Linked DNA regions of Homo sapiens. The protein of the gene in region 1 purifies or fractionates together with the protein of each later gene. This does not show direct contact. Each region holds a gene or a part of one and is shown in the gene's direction. Other genes may lie near its edges.

Region 1 (7,026 bases):
AGGGCATATTTTGGCTTACAAAGCACTAGGTGCTAGAACTTGTACTCATCAGAATGACTCTTGGTATATTTCTTCATAAGGCACTCACAGAATTCAATCACCCAATTATGTGTTCGTACCTTATATTTGTGTTGTTGATACATGGAGGTATGATGCTTTTAAGTAGAAGGATTCTTCTTTATATTTAAACTGTGCTTTTAAAAATATAATTTTTCTCATTAAAATAAAATAATTAGTAGCCAACAATCAACATTAATGTCCAATAGTTAAAATAAATAAGTTATAAACTAGGATATGTTATTTGAATACCTACTATTAAGTTTCTGCATAGGATTTTTATTAAATAAATTTGAACAGTTTTTTAATCTCATAACGATGTAATATTTAGAGAAAAAATCAAGTTCTTTGATTAATGTATTTAACTCACAACAGTTCTTAGCATATAGCACTTGATGGCCATTTGCTGAGTGAATATGAACGAATGTGCAGAGGAAAATGTTTTGTGATCCTTTCATCCTCAACCTGATCATTCCCACCCTAGATCCCTACCTCTAGGTAGTGTATATGTGTACACACACACACATACACATACGCTGAGTATGATTATCTACTCACTCATTTTCATATATTTAACACATACATGCACACTATCCCTTTTAACTACATTGTTGTACTTACTATCGATTCTGAACTTACTACTTATCAAACATCTTCAAAGAAAATTTTATTTCATGAGGCTAGGGGTAAGATTTCTTTCTGCTATGATTTGTTTGATAAATTGTTGAATGCAAGCAGTAGAAATACAAGAATCAGACTAAAATTTATAATATTTTGCACATTAATTGAGGCTTTTTTCTCTACTGAACTGTGTTCTCCTCATGAGTCAGGATCATATTTGACTTATTTACCAATGTATCTCAAGGGTAAAGTATTTTGATTGGTACATAGTGAGAATATAAACAATACTCATTGAATGAGCAAATGAATAATTTTAGTCTATGCATTCAGGAAAAACTAATCAAGTAATTAAAATAATTTTATTTTTTATAAAACATACTAGTGGTTTAATTAAAATATGAAACTTTAAGTACTGTTGTACTGTTTTGTGAAGAATTGTGAAAGGTCTGAGATATTATCCCACAGATATAGATGATATAGATATTGGTATAGATATAGACCTAACTAGAGATACAACACCTGGGTCAGAAGTAAGGAGTTCTTAACAGATACTCATAAATAGATCGACAACCAGAGTAACATAGCAGCATGCATCTCCCACACCTTAGTCTTACAGTGATGTGATAAGAACCAATAAAATTTGTCTACACAGGTAGCAGTGTATGTCTCATAAATGATGGACAAAGAACAATAGATTTTCTCCATTTGTTTACAGGAGAGAGACAAGCAGATTCCTCCTTTCCCAAAAGGAAGGAAAAATCTTTCATTCCATTATGATGAGTTGAAGAGGAACCTATCTTCTCACCATAAACATTAGGAATATAAACATATCTTTCCAAGGTCCAGCTAGACAGCAAATAAAGTCTCCAGATGATGGGCTGCATTTCTTTTGAGATGTAAATACCAAAGGATATAATGTCCCCACACTTCTGACACCTTAAAGCTTAATTTAGGACCTTGTCTCTGCTCTCTTTGAGCCTCTAGAGGAGATAAGAGAAGTTTTGTTATCCCTTCAGATCAGATCATTAAACTAGATGAATGGCTACATATCTAATTGTCAAGGTATGCGAAGAGTAGAATATTTTTGGGAGAAGTGAAAGAAAACATTCCCTATCTTTATATTATATACAATGTTTTGTGGGTCAGGAAAGCAAAAACTTTATTCAAGAGCACTGAGAAATCTAGGAAAGTTTTATTTCTGCACAATTATATATGGATGTTTCAAAGCATTTACAAATAGTCCTATGATATAAACCTATTTTTATAATAAAAATATTGAAAGTCTTTCACTACTGAGTAAAATGTAATACATAGCAGCAAGCCATAAATTCTACTAAATAAGTAGAAAATAGCAGAATTTTTCCAAAATTGTGTTTTTAAAAAAATGAGAGTGCTAAATCTGGAGAAAAATTTTTGGCCTAGGAGCATTTGGTAGGTTTGGGCATAAAGTGAGGACTGGGTTTGTAATAGGCATGCTATGGTTTGTTTGAGTTAAATTATGAGACAAGTGAAGCAGAAAGATGTGACCAGCAACCAAGGGAAAAATACTATCAATAGAAGCAATAGATGATACTTTAGATGTAGGCTTTAAAATAACCATTATTTTAAAAAATTAAGAAAAATCTAGATGAAAAGATGGAGAATTTCAATCTATAATTAGTTCAACCATTGTGGAAGAGTGTGGCAATTCCTCAAGAATCTAGAACCAGAAATACCATTTGACCCAGCAATCTCATTACTGGGTATATACCCAAAAGATTATAAATCATTCCATTATAAAGACACATGCACACACATGTTTATTGCAGCACTGTTCACAATAGCAAAAACTTGGAACCAACCCATATCCCCATCAATGATAGACTGGATAAAGAAAATGTGGCACATATACACCATAGAATACTACGCATCAATAAAAAAGGATGAGTTTATGTACTTTGCAGGGACATGGATGAAGCTGGAAACCATCATTCTCAGCAAACTAACACAGGAACAGAAAACCAAACACTACATGTTCTCACTCGTAAGTGAGAGTTGAACAATGAGAACACATGGACACAGGGAGGGGAACATCACACACTGGGGCCTGTTCACGGGTGGGGGGCTAGGAGAGGGATAGCATTAGGAGAAATACCTAATGTAGATGATGAGTTGATGGGTGCAGAAAACCACCGTGGCATGTGTATACCTATGTAACAAACCTGCATGTTCTGCACATGTACCCCAGAACTTAAATTATAATAAAAAATGAGTTCCTGAATTCATGAATGCAAACATTGCAAGAAAATCACACTCAAACTTTTCACGATCAAACAGCTGAAGATAAAAAATAGAAATTTAAAAAGTCACTATTTAAAATGACACATTATTCTCAAAAAAAGCAGCACTGACTGACAGCTGGCATTTCAACAACAACAATAAAAAAGGAAAGTAGAAGACTGCAAAATGACATTGCTAAAATGCTGGATAAAATAATAATATTGATAATGATGAAGATAACGTGCCAACATGGAATTTTATACATGGTGACATTTTTCTCCAAAATAAATACAAAATTAAAGCACGTTTGGACAAAAGCTGAAATAACACAATTCCAAAAAAACATACACCAAAAGTTACAGAAAAAAAGTAGGCAAATATTTAAACATATCTCAGTATCTCATAGAAATAGCAGCTAAAAATAAGTAAATGTATGAAAGATTGAAAAAAACTATTAGCCAGCTTTATGTCATTGAAATTCATAGGATATTACACATAAATATTGATGAATATACATTCTCTTTAAGTGCACATGAAATATTTGCCAATATTGACCACATGCTGGTCCATAGGGCATGTTCAATAAATTTAAAAAATTGAAATTGTACAGAATATACCATGATGAAACTTTTGTTATTTAGCTAAAGCACTACTGAATGTAATAGAAAATGCATGCATTGGAAAAGAAGAAAGGTTAAAATTGATTCATGTATTTTTAAAAGGTTGAAAAGAATAATTCAATAAGCTGAAAAATTTAAACCGAAGATAAATGAAAGAAATAATAAACAGAAAAGCAAAAAAAAGTAAAAGAAAACAGACATATTATAATAGATGAAAATCAAAAAAGCAAAGAGTTGATGCTTTGCAAAAAATGATTAAATGTCTAGGAAGACTGAAAAAGAAACAAGGAGAGACAAATTGCCATAGAAATGAAAAAAGAGAACATTGCTGCAGATTCAATAGATATGAAGTAGGTAATAAGAGGATATTATTAAAAAGTTATGCCAGTATAATTGAAAATATAGATGAAATGGATAAATTTATCAGAAAACAAAACTTATCAAAAACCTACACAGGATGAAAATAGCATAAATAGTTATGGAACAATTTGAAAAAAAAAATGAGTCTATTTAAATTACTTTCACAGAGGAATTCAGGCTCAAAAGACTTCACTGGTGAATTTTCCAAACATTTAAGGAATAAATGAAACGAATTTTACAACAAATCCTTTCAGGGAATAGGAAATAAGGAACAGTTACTTCCAAACTCATTTTATGAAGCGGTAACACCAATACCAAAACTTGATAAGACAATACAAAAAAGAAAAAATATAGGCCGATATCTCTCATGAGCATAAAATTCCAAACAAAATATTACAATTAAGAAATATATAAAGGGATAACACTCCATAAGTGAAACTTATGTTAGGAATGCAAGGTTGGTTTCAAGTACTAAAATCAATCAATATAGTTCATCAAATTATAAGAGTCAAGGAGAAAAAAAAACATGATTTTTTTTTTTTTTTTTTTTTTTTTCAGACGGAGTCTCACTCACTCTGTCGTCCAGGCTGGAGTGCAGTGTCGTGATCTTGGCTAACTGCATCCTCTACCTCCCAGGTTCAAGCAGTTCTCCCTACCTCAGTCTCCCGAGTAGCTGGGAATACAGACACCCGCCACCACACCTGGCTAATATTCGTATTTTTGGTAGAGACGGGTTTCGCCATGTCGCCCAGGCTGGTCTCAAACTCCTGACTTCAGGTGATCTGCCCACCTTGGCCTCCCAAAGTGCTGGAATTACAGGCGTGAGCCAGTGAACCCGGCTTGAATATCTTAATTGGTGCAGAAAATGCATTAATAAAATTCAGCACTTACTGTTCTACTGTTGTGTAACAAACTATCACAGATTTAGCAGATTGAAACAACATACATTTATTATCGCAGTGTTTCTGTGGGTCAGAAATCCAGTGTACCGAGCTGGATCCTCTGCTCATGATCTCACAAGGATGCCATCAAAGTGTTGTCTGAGTTGTGTTCCTTTCTGGAGCTTACAGCCCTCTTCCAAGCTCACGTGGTTGTTGGTAGACGTGTTTTTTTGGTTGTGGGTCCAAGCCCCCATTTTCTTGCTGACTGAGGATATTCTCAGATCTTAGAGGATGCCTGAAGTTCCTTCCATGTGGCTCCCTCACACAGAGTTTTACAGATCCTCTCTCAACAGAGTACCTTACATCTTCAAGACCATTAGGAAAAACAAAATTTCTGACTTCTAAATCCTCTTTTAAGGGGCTTCTTGAGCCACATTTGGTCCACGAGCCATGGTTTGCCAATACATAGGTCACAGAAACTTTATATACATATGAAAAAAAAAAACCTAGATCACTTCCTCACTAAATACAGACAAAAACAATTTGAGATGGAGCAGAGACCATGTAATTGCAAAATAATAAAGTTTCTCGAAGAAAACATAGGCAAATATGTTTGTGATATCTATTAGAAAATGCTTTCTTAAATCGGGCACAAAATAAACTTTTTAAGAATAAATTATCAGACTACATTAAAATAAGAACAACTATTTAAAAGACAGTATTATAAGAAAAAGTAAGCCACAGAATGAGAAAAATGTATCTATCTATCTATCTGGAAAGGTATCTGACAAGTCCTCACATATACAATAAATAGACATTCTTACAAATATATAGGAAGACCAAGATAACTCAATAAAATAGAACTCTTAAACAGAAACTTCAAGAAAAGGGGAAATCCAAATGGCCTAAATAGCCATGTGAAAAGATGGTCAATGTTACTAATTATCAAGGAAATGCAAATTAAGACCACAATGAAATATCACTTCATATACACTAGATTAGCTAAAATTAAAAGGATTGATAATATCCAGCATAGATGAGGATTTGGAGTAAATAGAATCTTATACTACTGATGCATGTGTAAATGGAGCCGCTACTTATGTTCATCATGTTTATCACCAGGAGAATGGATAAACTGTGGTATAGTCACACAATGAAAATAAATAGTAATAAGATGAATTAATTGCTTACATATGCCAAACATAGATGAATCCCAGAAACATTATTTTGAGCTAAAAAAAAGTCAACCTCAATATATTTTGCATTATTCCATTTTTGTAAAGATCAATTATAGGAAAACCTGATGGGGAGTGGAGGGTGGATGGACAGGAAGGCAACATGGTAGACCTTCTGGGGTGCTATAAGTGGTTAATAGCTTAATCTAAGTGGAGATTACATGAACATAAACTTCATAAACACATGTATAAATTTACTAAGTTGTATACTTAAGATTAATACACTTTATCTATGTGACTGTATCATATATCTCAATACAAAAGATGAAAAGTTAAATCTTTAGAAATTTTCTCCCCTTCATTGCCACCATTTCCTTTATAATTAAATACAAACAAATGTAGGCATTTGGAAGAAACAAACAAAATAAATGCTGAAATAGAAGAAATGAGAGTAGGAAGAATAAGATTAATAAACAAAATACATGTCCTGAGGTGTATTTTATTAGCACTAATTTTTACAGTGTCTTACTCTTTATAATTATGTGGCCTTTCTTGCAAACATATGATTAGCTCTCATTAGCACATAAATGCACATTTGCTTATACAATCTTTATATACCTTTCCCATATTTACCAAGAATGTAATTATGAAATTTTGGATAGTAATAATCTTCAGCCATCCAAATGAGAATAGGCTCAGTGTTATATATCATATTTGCAAGAATTTACAAATATTACTATTCCTAGCCATTTGTTAGGTTGTGACTAATTTTATTTGATATATAGATACAGATATATGAACTGACTAAAAAAATATGAAAATTGACATTTAGTGTATTTCACTGGTGCTAGAACTCTCACACACATTGACGCTGTTTCCTTCTCAGCTATTCAAAGTCCATTTCATCTTTGAAATGATAAATTGAACTTACAATTTTAAACATAGTTTTGAGAGTGCTCCTTTAAAGTATCAGGGTTGATTAAGGAGGCAAACAGCCAAATCTTAAAAAGAAATGCTGATAAAAATTGGCTATTTCTTAAAGTTGATGTCATG
Region 2 (6,826 bases), on another chromosome or scaffold:
ATTCATAGAGACAGAAAACTGATTATTAGTTGACAGGGGCTGGGGATAGAAGGGAGTGTGGGAATGACTGCTAATGGGCTTAGGGTTTGTTTGGGCTGATGAAAAGGTTCTGGAACTAGGCTGGACATGGTGGCATACGCCTGTAATCCTAGCACTTTAGGAGGCTCAGGTGGGAGGATGGCTTGAGACCAGGAGTTCAGATGAGGCTAGGGAACAAAGCAAAACCCCATATCTACAAAAAGAAAGAAAGAAAGAAAGAAAGAGACTCACGCCTGTAATCCCAGCACTTTGGGAGGCCAAGGCAGGTGGATCACCTGAGGTCGGGAGTTTGAGACCAGCCTGACCAACATGGAGAAACCCTGTCTCTACTAAAAATACAAAATAAGCTGGGCATGGTGGCACATGCCTGTAATCCCAACTATTTGGGAGACTGAGGCAGGAGAATCGCTTGAACCCAGGAGGCGGAGATTGCGGTGAGCCGAGATCACGCCATTGCACTCCAGCTTAGGCAACAAGAGTGTAACTCTGTCTCAAAAAAAAAAAAAAAAAAAGAGTTCTGGAACTAGACAGCGTGGATAGTTGTGCAACATTTACTTAGTGCCATTGAGCTGTGTGATTTAAAATGGTTACAATTATAAAGTTTAAGTGTATTTTACAAAAAACATGTTAAAATACACACACCCATATTCTGACTACCAGCTTTGAAATATTAGGGATACAAATGACTCCCCGCGGACCACCCCCTCCAAGATCTGATTGCCTCTCCTATCTCAAACATAACTTATATCTTGAATTTGGTGCCTATTATTACCACAGACATTTTTAGACTTTTATTCCATGGTATATATTCTTTAAAATATAGTATTATGGACAAGGTGCTTTTAAAAAGCATGCTCCTAGTCTGGGCACGGTAGTTAATGCCTGTAATCCCAGCACTTTCGGAGGCTGAGGTGGAAGGATTGCTTGAGCTCAGGAATTCAAGACTAGCTTGGGCAACAGAGTGAGACCCCATTCCTATTTTATTTATTTATTTATTTATTTATTTATTTATTTATTTATTTATTTGAGACGGAGTCTTGCCCTGTCGCAGGCTGGAGTACAGTGGCACGATCTCGGCTCACTGCAACTTCCGCCTCCCAGGATCAAGCGATTCTCCTGCCTCAGCCTCCGGACTAGCTGGGATTGCAGGCGCGCACCACCATGCCCAGCTAATTTTTGTATTTTTAGTAGAGACGGTTTCACCGTGTTGGCCAGGCTGGTCTTGAACTCCTGACCTCAAGTGATCTGCCTCCCTCGGCCTCCCAAAGTGCTGGGATTACAGGCATGAGCCACCACGCCCGGCCTTTTATTATTTCTTTTAAATCATGCTTCTGATCCACTATCATTTCTCCTATCTGTTTGTGAAGTGAAACTTCTTACTGAGACTCGCTAGGTTTGGAAACTTCTAGTATCTCACTTTCATCCTCTGTAAAAGGGAAAAATAATGGTACCTACTTCATAAAGCAAGGAGTAAATGGGATCATATTTGTAATACGCTCACAAGAGTAAGCTATTATTTTTCATTTCATTTATTTTTATAATCCCCATGTATTTCTTTTTCCTTTACTTTTTTCTTTTCTTTTTTTTTTTTTTTTTTTTTTTGAGGTGGAGTTTTGCTCTGTTGCCCAGGCTGGAGTGCAATGGCACGATCTCAGCGCACTGCAACCTCTGCCTCCCAGGTTCAAGCCATTCTCCTGCCTCAGCCTCCTGAGTAGCTGGGATTATAGGCATGTGCCATTATGCCTGGCTAATTTTTGTACCTTTTGTAGAGATGGGGTTTCACCATGTGGGCCAGGCTGGTCTTGAACTCCTGGCCTCAGGTGATCTGCCCACCTGGGCCTCCCAAAGTGCTGAGATTACAGGCGTGAGCCACCATGCTTGGCCTCCTTTACTTTTTTGAGTATATAGCACATTCACACGGTTTTGAATTCAAAAAGTACAAAAAGCCGGGCACAGTGGCTAATGTCTGTAATTCCAGCACTTTGGGAGGCCGAGGCAGGTGGATTGCTTGAGCCCAGGAGTTCAAGCCCAGCCTGGGCAACATAGGGAGACCCCATCTCTACAAAACATACAAAAATTAGCCAGACATGGTGGCACACTCCTGTAGCCCCACCTACTCAGGAGGCTGAGGTGGGAGGATTGCTTGAGCCCGGGAGGTCGAGGCTGCAGTGAGCCGAGATCACACCACTGCACTTCCTCCAGCCAGCCTGGGCAACAGAAGGAGATCTCATCTCAAAAGAAAACAAAACAAAACAAAAAAAAACAAACAAACAAAAAAACAAGGATAGAGTGTAGTAAATTTCTGTCCTGGAAGTTAGACTATGTTGCCAGTTTCAGTTTCTTCTCTCTTGTTCCAGTTCATCTGGACACAATCCCAGAACACACACAAACCCAGAACAGGCTGCAGGCTGTACTTGACCTTCCATTTTTCTCTTCTACAGGTTATCACTTGGAGACTTACCATATATGCACACGGTGAGCTTCTTTGTTCTTTTCTATGGACACCTAGTATTCCACTGGGTGGATCAGTCATGATTTATTACTCAGCTCTCCTACAGATGGGTGTTTAGATTGGTTTCAGCTGTTTGCAGTGATGTGCAGTACTGCAATGATTAACCTGGTGCAGACATTATTTTGTGCAGTTCCGAGTAGATGCCTCTGAAGAATAAATTCCTGGAATTGCTGGCTCGGTAAGAATGTTCCAGGTTCTACTTGCCCCAGCCGTGTATGAAAGGACCTGTTTGCTCGCACTCTCATTAGCACTGTTTGGCAGGAATGTAACCTTAAACAAACAGCGTCAAGCTGTGGGTATACTCCTGCAAAATGCCTTTTCTGCTCCAGAATAGGTTTCTGAGATGTCGCCAGGTTGGTTTCATTCTGCCAATTTCAGCTGAAACATTGCTGCCTCCAGGAAGACCTCAGGAATCACCTCCTCCCAGTGTGAGCTCAGCTCAGTGCCTTCTGTTCTCTGCATTCCCATAGCAGTTCCCTGCCTCGGAGCACACGTTCCCCCACATGCACTCCAGCGTGATTGATCCGTATCTATCTGCCTTCCCCATCAGACAGTGAGCTCCGGTTTTTGCCACTGTGACTCCAGCACCAAGGACAGCACCAGCCCATAGTAGGTGCTCAGTAAACATTGGCTGCTAAGGTCCCAGTGAATATGCGTATATGTAGACAAATATATGCAGGCTGGCCCGTAGTAGATATTCAGTAAATATTGGTCGCTTAGGGTTGAATGAGTATATGCAGGGGCTTTCACAAAGGGGGAAACCGAGGCTCGAAGTGGGAGAATCCTTCACCCAGACAGCCAAGGGAAGGCTGGAGCCAGGTTCTGATCCAGAGTGCCAGTACTTCCTGAAGCCTCTGTCACTGATTCATTCATCTTCCTCCCCCGGCCACTCCCCTGGCCTGACACAGTGCCTGGCACAGACAGGACCTGATAAATGTGTATTTGTTGAAGGAATGAATGAATATGTGTGTGTGCATGTTGGGGAGCCGGGAGTAGCTGGACCCAGTGTTCCAGGCCCTCAGCACCCTCCGCCCTCTGGGAGCCCGGGGGACAGGCCCCCAGCCCCCTCCCCTCACAGGACCCTGTAGTGCAAGCTGCCTTCCCTCCCCTCTCCAGGTCCCCCGTCCTCCCGCTTCCGGCTTCCCAGCCAGTCTTTCCTCTTTCAGGCTCCGAGGAAAGGCCAGGTTTCCGGGGGGAAGGCTTAGGCAGTGACACCGAGCCCAGCCTCCTCCTCCACCCCCCACCACGCTCAGGCCCCCCTCCCTCCCCGCCACCACCGTCCGCGTTTGGCCGGCCGTGGGGAAGGAAGAAAGGAGCCAAGGAGGCGAGGTAAGAACCCAGCCCCAGCGACCAGGACCAAGCCCCAGGCCCAGGGCTGAGAAATCCTCAAGGCCTCGACCCGGCCCCAATTCTGCTGATCATGCCTTCGGGGAGCTGCAGGCTTGGCCCGGAGGAGATCGGCCCCCCTCTAGGACCTGGGACCCCCGACCCCCACCAGCCTCCCTCCCGAGTCCAGGGGTCCGGCCCTCAGTCGCCTCCTCCCTGGGGATTCCCGGCAGCTGGGTCCCCAGCCCCCGCCTCCCCCTTGTCCTGGGAGCCCAGCCCCCTCCCCAGCCCCTCCTCCACCGGGACCCAGGAATCCACACCTCCTCCATACCAGAGTCCAGATTCCCCAATCCGTCATGACCTGGACCCAGGAGTCTCAATCCCCAGCTCCCATCCCCATCAGTCCCAAGAGTCTGGGCCCCTAGCCCCCTCCCAACTCAGACCAGAAGTCTGAACCCTCCTACTCCCCGACCTCTCCCAGCCCCTGGCATCTGAGAACACACTCTATTTCCGGGGCCTACCGGCTTCAAATCCCACCCCCTCCACTCAGGCCCCATGGGCTGTGTCCCAGCCCCTCCCAAAACGTTCAGCCTGGCCGGGGGACCTGGAGCAGAAGCGGTTCGCTGACTTTGTCCCCCTCCGTGCCTCTGCCCAGTTCACTCCCTCTGTGTCTCTGTCTCCCTGTCTCTCCGGCCCCCAACCCGCCACTGCTCTTCTGATCTCTGCTCTTGCACTATCTCTGCCTCTGGTTCTCCAAGTCTCTTTGTTTCCTCTTCTCTGTGTCTCTGTCTCTCTGCTGGGTGTTCCTCACTCTCCTCTGTCTCTTCTCTGCTCTGCCTTTCACCATCCTGTCTTTCTGCGACTCCTGGTCTCTGTCTGTCCATCCCCACTTCTCTGTGTCTCCCATCTCTGCCTTCTCCTGTCTCTATTCCCTGCTCTGTCGCTCTGTCTCTGATCTCTCTCCTCCTGTCTCTCCATCTCTGGCCTCCCCTCGGTGTCTCTCATCTTTGTCTCTGTCTCATATCTCTCTCCTGGCTAAATACCTGACCCTCTCTGCCTCTCCATCTCTGACTGTCTCTGCTTCTCTTTCTGCCACACCCCACGCACCTCTTTTTATCTCTGCCCCGCTTCCCATCTCTCCCCTCTCTCCCCACAGGCATGGATCCGCAGCCTCCTCCACCCGCCCAGGGCAGCCCACCTCACCGTGGCCGAGGCCGGGGCCGTGGCCGAGGCCGTGGTCGGGGCCGTGGCCGTGGCAGGGGGGGCGCTGGAGCCCCTAGGGCGCCCCTGCCCTGCCCCACCTGCGGCCGCCTCTTCCGTTTCCCCTACTACCTCTCCCGGCACCGGCTGAGCCACTCGGGGCTCCGGCCCCACGCCTGCCCGCTGTGCCCCAAGGCCTTCCGCCGGCCGGCCCACCTTTCCCGCCACCTGCGCGGCCACGGGCCCCAGCCCCCGCTGCGCTGCGCCGCCTGCCCCCGCACCTTCCCAGAACCGGCCCAGCTCAGGCGCCACCTGGCTCAGGAGCACGCGGGCGGCGAGGTCGAGCTGGCCATCGAGAGGGTGGCCAAGGAGACGGCCGAACCCAGCTGGGGCCCGCAGGACGAGGGCTCGGAGCCGCCCACCACCGCTGCAGCAGGGGCCACGGAGGAGGAGGCGGTCGCAGCGTGGCCTGAGACGTGGCCTGCGGGGGAGCCTTCCACGCTGGCTGCGCCCACCAGCGCCGCGGAGCCCCGGGAGTCGGAGTCGGAGGAGGCCGAGGCCGGGGCAGCAGAGCTGAGGGCCGAGCTGGCGCTGGCGGCCGGGCGGCAGGAGGAGAAACAGGTCCTGCTCCAGGCAGACTGGACGCTGCTGTGTCTGCGCTGCCGCGAAGCCTTCGCCACCAAGGGCGAGCTCAAGGCGCACCCGTGTCTGCGCCCCGAGGGCGAACAGGAAGGGGAAGGGGGGCCCCCGCCACGCCCCAAGCGACACCAGTGCTCCATCTGCCTCAAGGCCTTCGCCAGGCCCTGGTCCCTGTCGCGCCACCGGCTGGTCCACTCCACCGACCGCCCTTTCGTGTGCCCAGACTGCGGCCTGGCCTTCCGCCTCGCCTCCTACCTCCGCCAGCACCGCCGCGTCCACGGCCCCCTCAGCCTGCTGGCCCCGCTGCCCGCGGCGGGCAAGAAGGACGACAAGGCCTCGGGTGCACGGAACTCAGCCAAGGGGCCGGAGGGGGGCGAGGGGGCGGAGTGCGGGGGTGCCTCGGAAGGGGGAGAAGGGCAGAACGGAGGCGACGCCGCCCCGGCTCGGCCCCCCGCCGGGGAGCCCCGCTTCTGGTGCCCAGAGTGCGGCAAAGGTTTCAGGCGCCGGGCGCACCTGCGGCAGCACGGGGTGACCCACTCGGGAGCGCGCCCCTTCCAGTGCGTGCGCTGCCAGCGGGAGTTCAAGCGCCTGGCCGACCTGGCGCGCCACGCACAGGTGCACGCGGGGGGCCCAGCCCCGCACCCGTGCCCCCGCTGCCCGCGCCGCTTCTCGCGCGCCTACAGCCTCCTGCGCCACCAGCGCTGCCACCGCGCAGAGCTGGAGAGGGCCGCCGCGCTGCAGGCACTGCAGGCCCAGGCCCCGACGTCGCCGCCACCGCCCCCGCCGCCCCTGAAGGCCGAGCAGGAGGAAGAAGGGCTCCCGCTGCCCCTCGCAAACATTAAGGAAGAGCCGCCCTCTCCGGGGACCCCACCCCAGTCCCCGCCGGCTCCCCCTGTCTTCCTCAGCGCCTCCTGTTTCGACAGCCAAGACCACTCAGCCTTCGAGATGGAGGAGGAAGAGGTAGACAGCAAGGCTCACCTGCGCGGGCTGGGGGGCCTGGCCTCCTGACCTTCGCCGCCCTGCCCTCCGCCGCTCCGCCTGAGCTCCCCGGTTTGCAGAATGGAGGAGGGAAGTTGAAGGAGCCACCTCCTCTGTCTACCCACCCGTCCC
Region 3 (7,026 bases), on another chromosome or scaffold:
GGAATTCCCATTTATAAAACCATCAGACCTTGTGAGACTTATTCACTACCAGAAGAAAAGCATGGGAAAGAACCGTGCCCATTATTCAATTACCTCCCCCCAGGTCCCTCCCATGACACATGAGAATTATGGGAGCTACAATTCAAGATGAGATTTAGGTGGGGACACAGCCAAACCATATTAATGACACTTCTGTGATCCTGTGGATTTGGGGAGTGATGGCGATGATTTCAAGAAGGAAACCCCCTCTCCTGCACATGGCTACATATTCTCCAGGGAACAACTATTGCAGTCTGAGAAGCACACAACAGGGATATCAGCAAAAGCTAGGAATGCCTTTCTAGCCCAGATATCTAGCACTGGGGAAAGCACAAGATATTGCTGGTGGTGAGGAGAACAATGAAGACAACTTGTTTTTTGGGTGGCCCACGGGTCATTAAAAGTATCACAGGACAGGATTTGTGTATGGACAACAATTCCCATATTTACAAATGAACAATGCTCTAAGAGTTGGGTTAATGTTGCTGTGTTTCTTCAATCAGTGCTTAGGCTCTATTGTGTCAGAGATTTAGCTGGTTATGAGAAAACAGTGACAATCCAAACCCAAACTTTTTCAAAGGGCTAACAGTTTTACGTTGACCCTGCATGCATATTATAAAAAATTAGCTCCATTTTTGAGCAATATCTCATAAAATGCACACTTATATTTCTTTCTATATTCATTCTCATTTCTAAAGGTATGTGTCTGGGTTATTTTTACCCTTGTAAGCCGTTTCAAATCTTTTCTGAAATAAACAAGATACACATAAAGGTGTAAAATGATGTCATGTTTATATTTCCATACTACCTCATAGAAACCTGAAGCATACGGCTACTAATAATACAATGATGTGCTTCATAATGACGTTTCAGTCAATGAAGTGGTGGTCCCATGAGATTACAATGGAGCTGAAAAACTTCCATTGCCTAGTGACCTCATAGCCATAGTATGTGGTAGCGCAGTGCATTACTCACATGTCTGGGGTGGTGGTGGTGTAAACAAACTTACTGTGCTGTCAGTTGTACACAATTCTAGCATATAAGTAATTACTGTATTATACTTTTTTTTCTTCAACTTTTATTCTAAGTCAGGGGTACATGTGCAGGATGTGCAGATTTGTTACACAAGTGAACGTGTGCCATGGTATCTTGCTGCACGGATCATCCCATCACCTAGGTATTAAGCCCAGCATCCATTAGCTATTCTTACTGATGCTCCCCCTCCCCCAAGCTCCACCAACAGGCCCCAGTGTGTGTTGCTTCCCCGACGCGTCCATTTGTTCTCATCATTCAGCTCCCGCTTATAAGTGAGAACATGCAGTATTTGCTTTTCCGTTTCTGTGTTAATTTGCTGAGGATAATGGCTTCCAACTCCATCCATGTCCCTGCAAAGGACATGATCTTGTTCCTTTTTATGGCTGCATAGTATTCCATTGTGTATATGTACCCCATTTTCTTTATCCACATTTTCAGTCTATCATTGATGGCATTTAGGTTGATTCCACGTCTTTGCTATTGTGAATAGTGCTGCAATGAACACAGGTATGCATGTATCTTTAGAATAGAATGATTTATATTCCTTGGGGTATATACACAGTAATGGGATTGGTGGGTTGATGGTATTTCTGGTTCTAGGTCTTTGAGGAATTGCCACGCTGTCTTCCACAATGGTTGAACTAATTTATACTCCCATCAACAGTGTAAAAGTGTTCCTTTTTCTCCACAACCTCGCCAGCATCTGTTGTTTTCTGACTTTTTATTAATAGCCATTCTGACTGGCATGAGATGGTGTCTTTTTGTGTTTTTGATGTGCATTTTTCTAATGATCAGTGATGTTGGGCTTTTTTTCCTATGTTTGTTGGCCACATGTATGTAATTACTATATTATACTTTTATCGTTATTTTAGAGTGTGCTCCCACTTACATAAAAGGTAACTGTGAAACTGCCTCAGGCAGGTCCTTCAGGAGGTATCCAGAAGAAAACATTGTTATTATAGGAGGTGACAGCTCCATGCATGTTACTGGCCCTGACAGCCTTCCAGTGGGACAAGATGTGGGAGTGAAAGAGGGTGATACTTATGATCCTAACCTTGTGTAGGCCTGGCTAATATCTGTGTTTGTGTTGTAATTTTTAACACAAAGTTTTTTTTTTAATAAAATAAATTTTAAAATAGAAAAAAGCATATCAAATAAGGACATAAAGAAAATATTTTTGTATAGCTGTGCAATTTGTGTTTTAAGCTGTCTTACTACAAAAGAGTCAAAAAGTTTAAAAAATCAAAATGTATATAAAGTTAAAAAGTTACAGGAAGCTAAAATTAATGTATTATTGAAGAAAGGAACATAGTTTTTATAAATTTAGTGTAGCCTAAGTGTACAATGTTTATAAAGCCTACAGAAGTGTATAGAAATGTCCTAGGCCTTCACATTCTGTCACCACTCACTCACTCACTCACCTACCCAGAGCAACTTCGAGTCCTGCAGGCTCCATTCATGGCAAGTACCCTATACATGCGTACCATTTTTTATATTTTATCCCATATTTTTACTGCACCTTTTCTATGTTTAGATACATAAATGCTTACCATTGTGTTACAGTTGCCTCCAGTATTTAGTGCAGTCACATGCAGTACAGGTTTGTACCCTGGGAGCAGTAGGCCATACTGTGTAGCCCTGTTGTGTAGTAGGCTGTACCATCCAGATTTGTGTAACTGCACTCTATGATGTTCGTGCAGTGATGAAATAGCCTAATGACACATTTCTCAGAACATAAGCCTATCATGAAGTGACGCACGACTGTGTTTTGACTATAAAGACAGTAACCATTTCTAACATTTTTTTCCGAAGAAAATAGTTTTTAAGCTCGGGCTTGGGCTGGAGAGCAAATGTCTTCCCTGAAGTCTCCTCTAGTGCATTGGGTCTCATAAGCCACAGATAATTTGTTGGCTATTTTTATTTGCTGATGACAAGTCACTTCTCTAGGCTCTTCAGCCCTCAAGTGTTGCAGATTTCACTTTCTGAGGTCATGGCTGCAAGACACATTTTCTTGACCAGCAGCTGTGGCCTGAGTTTTAGATTGACAGTGAAATGCATAGAAACACAGCAGGCTTCCCCCAACACCAAGATGTCTCAGCTTTAAGGAAGATACAGGACTGATGCCAATACTGCATGGCTGGTGACTCCTGGGCTCAGCCTCTGAATATCTCCCTGTCACTCCCCAGGAAGGGTGAGCAGGTGGTCACGGGAGGAGGCTGAGAGCATGGAGAGAAACTCAGCTAAGGGAGTCATTTGCTCTGGGGTCGCCTCAGCTTTTGTCTTTGCTCTCATCTCAGCCACTGCAGGGTATGTGGGCTGCGCCCGTGCCGGATCAGCTATGCGCATCAAAGCCCCTTACTCATGACTGCTCGGCAGTGGAGGCAGTGAAGCACAGGCACTCGGTCCATCCAGTCCTCAGTGTGTTCTTGTCCTATGTTCAGTATACCCCCATAATTCCTTGACTGAGTGCTGTGAGAGAAAATGCACCACACAAGAGTCAAGTCCTCCTGTGTCTCTGTGGGTAAACAAAAGTTCACAAACCAGCTCTTCAGCCGGAGCCATATCTTCCCCATGTTTGTATGCTAAGCACAGGGTCTGGCATATACTAGGTCCTTGGTCAAAATTTGCCCAGTGAATATACACTTTTGACCTCAATTTTTTTTTTTTTTTTTTGATGGTGGACGGGATCTCACCCAGGCTGTATGTAGTGCGGTGGCATGATCATGGCTCACTGAAGCTTTGAACTCCCAGGCTCAAGTGATCCTCTTACTTCAACCTCCCAAGTAGCTGGGACTACAGCTGTGCACTGCCATGTCTGGCTAATTTTTAAAATTTTTTTTCTAGAGACAGGGGTCTCACTATGTTGCCCAGGCCGGTCTCAAACTCCTGGGCTCAAAACGTACTCCATCCTCGGCCTCCCAAAGTGCTGGGATTACAGGGATGAGCCATCATGCTCGGTCTGACCTGTGAATTCTAATTATTTCATATGCAGGTTGTTTCATGTGCCTAGTGTTTATAAACGTTAAGTGATTGCCTAGCTAGTAATTTCTTTCTATTTTAAAAGTAATATCTATCAAAGGTGTTTGTGCTGTTAAAAGGCACGAGGATGGTAACATGAAGTCCCAAACTACTTCTTTCCATCTGTGTTTCAGATTATTTGAATATATTTTGCTGTATAAGGATGGAGTGATGTTTCAGATTGACCAAGCCACCAAGCAGTGCTCAAAGATGACCCTGACACAGCCCTGGGATCCTCTTGACATTCCTCAAAACTCCACCTTTGAAGACCAGTACTCCATCGGGGGGCCTCAGGAGCAGATCACCGTCCAGGAGTGGTCGGACAGAAAGTCAGCTAGATCCTGTAAGGGTTCAAAGAATCTAAGCATTGTATTCAGCATGCATGATGGGGAAAAAGGTTTAAGTCCTTTAAGGAAGGTAGTTTTTAGGGAAACATCCGCTTAATCAAAAATTTTTTAAAGCCTCCACTTAGGTCTGCAGGTTACTTTGCTCACTATGTGGCAACGGGATCTAAGCTTCATATTTGAAACACCTCAGCCTTCTAGTGCCACCTGCACCTCTCTGCCACTTTGGCTCCTGTGAACTTAGCCTTGATTTTGACATTTTATGGTCGTCCCGAGGTCTGTGACATGGAAGGCATCTGTCTAAGGCACACATTTGAATTGGGTGCCTCCTTTTCTTTCCCCCACTTCCTAAAGTTGCAGGGGTCAAATCTACTCCCATCATGCTGAGTGTGCAAACCAGCCTACTTTTATGTGAAGCCATTCTCTGCCCTGCTGCTGATATACGCCTATCCCAAGACAGTTTTTACCACACAGGCATTCATGCTGTGGAACACAGTATGGTGATTTCTCAAAAAATTAAAGATAAGACTGCCATATGACCCAGCAACTCCACTTCTGTATATATATATATGCCCCAAAGAATTGAACGCAGAGACTCAAACAGATATTTGTACACCCATGTCCACAGCAGCATTATTCACAATTGCCAAAAGGTGGAAACCCAAATGTTCATCAACAGATAAATGGATAAACAAAATCTGGTATAGTCATACAACAGAATATTATTCAGCCTTAAAAAGGAAGGAAACACCAGCACATGCTACAGCCTGAGTAAACCTTGAGGACATAATGTTAAGAGAAACAATGCAGGCAGAAAATGACAAATACAGTACAATCCCACTTACATGAGGTATGTAGAGTCGTCAAATTCATAGAGACAGAAAATCGAATGATGAGTTCCAGGAGCTGGGAGAGGAGGAATGGGAAGTTCGTGTTTAATGGAGACAGAGTTTCAGTTTGGGAAGATGAAAAAAGTTCTGGAGATGGATGGTGCTGATGGTCAACAAATGTGAATGTACTCAAGGCCACCAAACACTTAAAAATGGTAAAATGGTAAATTTTATGTTATGTACATTTTACCACCATAAGAAAAAATATGAACTTCTTGCCTGTCTTCTTTATTTAAAAGTCAACTTTTTTCCTCTTATAGATGAAACCTGGATTGGCATCTATACAGTCAAGGATTGCTATCCTGTCCAGGAAACCTTTACCATAAACTACAGTGTGATATTGTCTACGCGGTTTTTTGACATCCAGCTGGGTATTAAAGACCCCTCGGTGTTTACCCCTCCAAGCACGTGCCAGATGGCCCAACTGGAGAAGATGAGCGAAGACTGCTCCTGGTGAGCCTGTGCATAGGGAAGCGGCAGCATCGGATGTCAGCCCCCTGCGGCCCCAGCTGGAGATGGATATGAGACTAGTCAAGATGTGAATGCTAATTGGAGAGAAATATAATTTTAGGAAGATGCACATTGATGTGGGGTTTTGATGTGTCTGATTTTGACTACTCAAGCTCTGTTTACAGAAGAAAATTGAATGGCGAGGGTGTGGCCATATGAACTGACTAGATGGCTAATATGGACACTTTGGGTATTTCTAATGCCTGTTCAGGGCTGGTTTTCTGCATGCACGGGTATACACATAATGCAGTGCCATGCACATAGGGAAGGGTCAGTAAGAGAAGTTTGCCTTGGCAGCAAGTATTTATTGTTGACATTATTCAGAATTAGTGATAATAAAAAGCAGAGTGATTTTGGTCAATTTTATTATTAATTCTTAAATTCCCTGCAGAGAATGCCCCCTTTATTGCTGCACCAGGGTTGGCATTGCTCCCACTGAGCCCTACTCCACCCTGTCCCTGCACTCCCTTGGTTGCCAAAAAAATGATAACTTAAATCCCTTCCAGACTTAAGAATTTTATGGCATGGCCCAATTGATATAAACATTTAGAAGGAAATGAAAAGCTAAAATAGGAAGTAATTATTCCTCTAAAGAAACATTTTGAGCAAGGCAGTTTAGAGAATCCTAATGTCTACACTGGCATAGCACGAGCCATGTAAGCTTCTTTTTTTTCTATGCAAGAGTATTGATGTATGTGCTGAATCTTCACAGACTTGTCAATACACAGGCAGTATTCTAAAATAGCACTGAACAGGGAGTCAGGAGACTATTGTCTCCTAAACCCAGGACTAGAGTTCCCTCGTACTGTCACTCCTTTGGTCATTAAATGCACTGGGCTTGCCCGCACTTTGGCCTTCCTAGAACACTGCTTCATAACCTCTCTGTCTGACTTCTGCATCTCCTTCCAGGTCAGCTCATTCACAAGAGTTGCTCCCAAGCCTGGATGAGTTGCACCTTGCATCTTGAGCATGCATTTCTCACAATAATTATTAAGCTGTGTGATAATTTCTGCTTTCAGGACACTCATCCATTATCTTGGCTGTGAGCTCCTTGGGTACGGGTACCTTGTATGTTTACTTTTATATCCCTAGCACAAAGCAAGTGCCTGGCACATAGTCAGTGCCCTAAGTATTCGTAGAGTGAAGAATGCCAGCCTCTCTTGTCCCTGGTTTCCTTATGTGTTGAATGT

The links. The genes of interacting proteins can lie anywhere in the genome.
Region 2: the proteins of TINAG (region 1) and ZNF579 purify together in Homo sapiens (affinity purification with mass spectrometry; 2 studies listed by BioGRID and IntAct, with this or other methods). This does not show direct contact.
Region 3: the proteins of TINAG (region 1) and EPDR1 purify together in Homo sapiens (affinity purification with mass spectrometry; 2 studies listed by BioGRID and IntAct, with this or other methods). This does not show direct contact.

The regions. Positions count from the first base shown.
Region 1 is NC_000006.12:54,381,433-54,388,458, forward strand, and holds part of TINAG (tubulointerstitial nephritis antigen), read left to right. Parts: intron 1-4,475; coding exon of another isoform or gene 4,476-4,523; exon of another isoform or gene 4,524-4,694; intron 4,695-7,026. UniProt on the Homo sapiens protein: Mediates adhesion of proximal tubule epithelial cells via integrins alpha3-beta1 and alphaV-beta3. This is a non catalytic peptidase C1 family protein.
Region 2 is NC_000019.10:55,577,849-55,584,674, reverse strand, and holds the start of ZNF579 (zinc finger protein 579), read left to right. Parts: upstream 1-3,826; 5' UTR 3,827-3,880; intron 3,881-4,532; exon of another isoform or gene 4,533-5,033; 5' UTR 5,034-5,035; coding exon 5,036-6,724; 3' UTR 6,725-6,826. UniProt on the Homo sapiens protein: May be involved in transcriptional regulation.
Region 3 is NC_000007.14:37,944,614-37,951,639, forward strand, and holds part of EPDR1 (mammalian ependymin-related protein 1 isoform 1 precursor), read left to right. Parts: intron 1-4,226; coding exon 4,227-4,435; intron 4,436-5,586; coding exon 5,587-5,783; 3' UTR 5,784-7,026. UniProt on the Homo sapiens protein: Binds anionic lipids and gangliosides at acidic pH.